Regions from separate parts of the Homo sapiens genome. Here region 2 is linked to region 1. Evidence: fine-mapped expression QTL. A gene starts in region 1. The other region holds a variant in brackets. All regions are shown on one strand. Distances are between the middles of the regions.

Region 1 (2,907 bases):
CATATATCCTGGTCAGAGGCAGTTTCGGATTACAAAACAGATTTTGGTCTTAAATCTTAATGCGTGCAATTGAGCGTTAAGACAGACTACTAACATAAAGTTCAACATGCAACCCAATCTTGGGTTTGGACACAAGACATAACCCATCCTGAAAGGCTTATTCTTATGAGTGTAAGCTCTGAAAAGTGATTTTATGCATTATTAGCTTCAAGACGATGTCGGAGCTGCCACTGCATCGGAAAGCAACTCATTATTTCCCTAGCAGGATGCAAAAGTGTAACACAGTAGAGAAGGAACAAGGTGTAGATATAGGTCAACTTTCAAATTCCTTACTTGTTTAACACAGCCTGGCCAAAAACACAAGAACACAAGTTGCCAGATTTCTTTTCTCTCTCTGGCTGCAGAAGACTGAAGGCCTTTCCCTAACGAGACTCAGGCAGCCTTATTTTCCCCTCACTTTGAGGGTGAAACTTCAAGAGAAGACGGGTGCGAAAAGAGCTTCCCAATGTTGAGAGACTGCCAGTTGTGATAGGGATCGCACTGACCGAACTTGGGGCTCCGTGTGTACCAGGCTGCCTCTCTAGGCCAGGTAATACAAGAAGCCAGGGCCGCTCAGGCGCTGGCCGCAGACACCAAATGAGGGGGAGGGGACGGTGAGGGGGAAGGAGGCAGGGAGGCGAAGGCGGACGGGGAGAAGAGGAAAGACCGAGGCCTGAAACAAAGGAAGCGGAGCTTTCTCCAAGAGGGGGTGGATTCGGCGTCCGAGTGAGGTGGAGAAAAGCCAAGGCTGCAGGGAAAGGCTGGACTCACAGAACTTGGAGGTGGAGGTGTTGATGTTGATGGTGGAGCTGGCGGTGGGGGCGGGGGCCGCCTTGGCCACGGCGGCGGCCGCGTCGCAGCTCTTCAACATCATGATCACCCCATTAGCCTCCGGCGGTGGCTGCGGCCCCATCGGGAGCCCCTCCTTGGGGCCTTTCCTGTCCACGGAGACCGCGGGCACCGCCAGCAGCTGCCCCCCCGGAGGCTCTCGGGCAGGGGCCGGGATCGACGAGGGGGGCGGCGGAGGTGGCAGGGGCTGCCGGAAGCCGTCCACCGCAGCCTCCCAGTTGTTGTGGTTCTGGTCGTCCATCATCGCCTCGTAGCTGCCCCCCTCCTCCTCTTCCATGCTTTCCTCCATCCTGCTGGCCCCCGGCACCCGCCCGCCTCACAGGCACCTGCCGCCTGTCTCAACCCCGGGCCAGCGGGCACCGCTGCCTCCCCGAGTTACATCGCCGGCGGCAGGAATGGGCGCAGCGGAGAGGGCTGCGGTGCGCAGGGTCTCTCGCTCTCCGCGGGGCCGACTAGCTTGAAGACGCGGCTGACGGCGGTGGGCGCTCCGGGGCTCTAGTCTGGGAGAGGCAGCCGTAAAGCAGCGGCGCTCCTCACGACGTTTTACAGCGGCTTCCAACAGGCAGTTGGAAAGGGCAGCTGGGGGCGCGGCCAGGAGGGCACGTGGTGCGAGGGACTGGCCGCGAGAAAGCGGAGCCAAAAGGGGCGGGAGCTGTGAGTCACTCCCACGCAACAGGGCAGAGGTTCGCCCCGCCTCGGCTGGCAGGGAGCTAACAGGGGAGGCGCGACGGGTCGGGACGGGCATTCGCCGGCCCCGCCCCCTGCCCGGCCTCACGTGACAAAGGTGTGTCTTGCGCACGCGCGTTCGCAATCTGGTTACCATGACGACGAGGCCCTCGCCGGTTCCTGAGGACGCGCGCGGAGCAGTCTTGGCAGTAGCTGTGGACTGGCCAGAGTGATTGGAGGTGTTTTCCTCGCGTCCTCCAAGTCTACGGGGCCTTCGCACCTCTGAGTGCCTGAGAGCCCCGGCTTTTGCTTGGGACGGAGGTACGGGACCACAAGAGGCCCCGGGGTCGCAGGTTATAAACGGATGAGACCGCCCTGGGCGGCCCGTGGTCCGACTGCTCTTGGGTCGGTCCCCAGCCGTCGCGACACACACGCACAAAATCGAGAATAAAAACCGAATCACACATAGCAGGATGGCGCAAAAAAGAAATGCGTTTGAGTTACTCATGTGTTTTTAAAATTCCTTTACGTTTGTATGCACTAAGGCCAGCAACCCAACTTTTAAAAATGCCGGCTCAGGCCGGGCGCGGTGGCTTACTCCTGTAATCCCAGCACTTTGGGAGGCTGAGGCGGGCGGATCACGAGGTCAGGAAATCGACACTATTCTGGCTAACACGGGAAACCCCGTTTCTACTAAAAATACAAAAAAGTTAGCCGGGCGTGGTGGCACGTGCCTGTTGTCCCAGCTAGCTGCTCGGGAGGCTGAGGCAGAATTGCTTGAACCCGGGAGGCAGAGGTTGCAGTGAGCCGAAATCGCGCCACTGCACTCCAGCCTGGGCAACAGAGCGAGACTCCATCTCAAAAAAAAAAAAAAAATGCGAGCTGGGCGCAGTGGCTCACGCCTGTAATTCAACCACTTGAGGAGACAGAGATGGGAGGCCCGCTTGTGCCCAGGAATTCGAGACCAGCCAGACCAGCATAACAAGACCACGCCTCTAAAAACAAAATTAGCCTGGCATGGTGGCGTGTGCCTGTGGTCCCAGCTACTCTGGAGGCTTAGGTGGATCACTTGAGCCCTGGAGGTCAAGGCTGCAGTGAGCCGAGATCGCGCAACTGCACTCCAGCCTGGGTGACAGAGTGAGACTGTCTCCAAAAAAAAAAAGAGAATTAAGTGGTATGCTGAAGGGGAAAACATAAAACCTTAGAATTACATGTGTGGCAAAAAGAGAGGCAGAAGGAAGGCAAATTCTGTTTCAAACAACTAATGGTTTATCATCAACAGACTCTAGGTAGATGGCTGGGTGAGTGCGATGGGATAAAGAAGGGTCTTTACATTTAAAAAAAAAGTCCAAT
Region 2 (2,907 bases), 22 kb after region 1:
TATGTGGCCTTTTGTGCCTGATTTCTTTCATTTAACATACTTTCCAGGTTTATCCACGTTGTAGCATATATCAGCACTTCATTCCTTTTTATGGCTAAATAATATTCCATTGCATGACTAGACCACAATTTGTCTATCCAGTCATCCACTGACTGATACTTGAGCTCTTTTCATCTTTGAGCTGTTGTGAATAATGTTACACACATTTGTGTACAAGTACTTGTTTGAACACCTGTCTTCAATTCTTTGAGAATGGAAACCTAGAAATAGAATTGTTGGGTCAAGATGGTAATTCTGTTGAACTTTTTGAGGAATAGCCATACTATTTTCCACAGCATCAGCTTCCTTGGATTTTGGTGGGATCACGTGACTGAAAACCTGTTACTGCCGATTGCAAGTGAGCGGAGGGGATCTTTGTCACATTGGGGCACAATGCTTCCCACAGGCCTGGCCTAGGCATAGTTGACTGCAGAGGACTCCAGGGTTATACAGGAGGGAGGAGCCACAAGAAGGAAGGATGTACTTCCTGGATGAAGGCTGCCTGAACACAAATAGCCACATTTATGGTACAAACAAGAAATAAACATGTGTTAAGCCACTGAGGTTTTCAGGCTTTCTCAGCCACTGCACCTCATGTTATCTTAACTAATGCATCACTCAAGTGCCATCACTCAATTCCCAGCTTCCTGGTGGAGTTCCACATATGTGGTCCATTCCTGCATCTCAACTTGCCTGTATCAGAAACGATATTTGTCATTTCTATTTTTTTCCCCCATTATTTCTATTCTAGGCAGGGATATGTTGGTTGCAAGGATCAGAAACTATTCAAACTAACTGAAGCAGAAGGCAGGGTTTATTATAAGACTACCGAGATCTCATGAATGCTGGAGGTAGAAAAACAAAATACCTCCAAGCCTCCTGCAAACGATCAGAGGCATAGCAAAGGGAAGTGAAGGGCAGAGAAGATGCATGTCCCTGAGTGCCAGTCAATGGGGATGCCACAAAGATAGAGGAGCGAACTTTCACCATTTTGGTTTTTGCATTGAGTTCCTATCTTTAGCTATGTTGAATATGAAACCTCTGGTTTGTTAGGTGTTTCGTATTAGCTTCCAGGAAAATTCTGGTCCCCGGACTCCATTTATCTCTCCACCCTAGGACAAGGATCCTTATCTCTTACCATAGAGAGCCAAAGCAAGTACTACTGTTACAGAAACATCAGGGGCTC[G/A]GTCTAGGTCCTGCTGCTTGCCACACAGAAAGCCAATCATTGAGATGACAGAAGAAGGCTTTAATCGGGTGCTGCAGCCAAGGAGATAGGAGGAGCTCAGGCTCAAATCCATCTCCCAGACCAACCAAAACTAGTGGTTTATACAGCAAGGAATAAATGTAACAATGTGTAAGAAAACAGGAACTAGGTGGGGAAGGAAGCAATCATGATGAACGAAGGGCCTGGAGTCTTTTTGTCTGGATGGGGTGATCTGGTGAGTTTCAGTTCTTTGATACTTTTTTTTTTTGAGACAGAGTCTCACTCTGTTGCCCAGGCTGGAGTGCAGTGGCACAATCTCGGCTCACTGCAACCTCCGCCTTCTGGGTTTAAGCTATTCTTCTGCCTCAGTCTCCTGAGTAGTTTGGATTACAGGCGCCCGCCACCACACCTGGCTAATTTTTTTGTATTTTTAGTAGAGACGGGGTTTCACCATGTTGGCCAGGCTGGTCTTGAATTCCTGACCTCAAGTGATCCACCTGCCTCGGCCTCCCAAAGTGCCGGGATTATAGGCGTGAGCCACCGCGCCTGGCCTGATACTTTTTTTGAGAGGCCTGAAGGTCATTTCCTGAGGAAGGAACTCAGATAAAACAAATGTAAGTTTCAAGCTTTAAGACCAGAAGGGTCCATTTCTATGTGTGTATATATATATATTTATTTTTTTTAAATGATCTATGGGACATTGGGTCGGTTTCACTATCTCCACCTCCCCATCCAGGGCCCACGTGGTCTCTGGTCTCTGCTTCTCTCCTGCAACTGTTCCACACTCCGGATCTAGACCATTATCTTCTGCCTGCTTCTCCTTTCCTGCACTCTACTCCCCACCGGAGATGGCCCAGCCCTTACATCTGAACATCCAGACCTCACTGGCTTCTTTCTGTCCTCTGAAATCTTAAGTTGTGCATGCTCCACTCCTATTTGTCACCTGGAATTTATTGCCTTGTATGGCTGGTTCCTTCCTTAGTGCATGTCTCTCATCTCAGGGCACAGGGCAGGGCCACAGTTTGATGCCCAGGTCAGAACCTGGTTCTACCATATGTCACCTTGTGATCTCAAACAAGTTATTTAATATCTCTGAGCCTTGGTTTCCTCATCTATAAAATGCATAGAATAATCAATGTACTAATTGTGTTTTTAAAAAATAAAAATAAAATGGGTAGAATAATGGTACTCACTGTTCTCACAAGGATTTTTTTTTTTTTAAAGATAATGCAGGTAAAGTGCTTAATAGAGTACCTGATACACAGTAAGAGCTCCCAGTACCAATGGTTCCAACTCTCTCCTCAGTCTAGCAGGGGCTTAGTGAGTAGCAGATGTGATGATTGAGTCAGTCAGTGGTTCTTAGACTTCCAGATGATCAGACTCAGATGAGGAGTTTGGGGAAAGATTCCTGCCTCTTCCCCCTATGCAACTGGGTCAGAATCCCAGAGTTGGGTTTGGGAATCTGAGATTCTAATTATCAGCCAGCTTTGACACCTGCAACTGGGTCAGAATCCCAGGGTTGGGTTTGGGAATCTGAGATTCTTATTACCAGCCAGCTTTGACACACTCAGGGAGACTCTACCAGGCTGGGTGGGCCACCTCCAGTGGGAAATAGGGAGAAAATGCCGACATCCACCTCAGTTGGGTCTTTCCGCAAGCAGTCA

Direction of the effects. Alleles are on the strand shown, and positions count from the first base shown. SD is a standard deviation of normalised expression in the study named.
With allele A in place of G in region 2, the expression in aorta of the gene that starts at base 1,385 in region 1 is lower (moderate effect, 0.52 SD a copy in GTEx).

Evidence for each region.
Region 2: its variant is fine-mapped to the expression of CACUL1 in aorta (GTEx, PIP 0.92).

Annotation. Positions count from the first base shown.
Region 1 is chr10:118,753,586-118,756,492 of GRCh38, forward strand. It overlaps CACUL1 (CDK2 associated cullin domain 1), which reads right to left and starts at 1,385. Exons shown (of 9, transcript NM_153810.5): 1 at 811-1,385. The coding sequence starts at 1,177. RefSeq lists enhancers at 1,314-1,453, 1,452-1,746.
Region 2 is chr10:118,775,874-118,778,780 of GRCh38, forward strand. No RefSeq gene overlaps it. Among named protein-coding and RNA genes, the nearest start is that of CACUL1, 22 kb to the left of the region's middle. The variant G/A (reference allele first, on the strand shown) is at 1,226.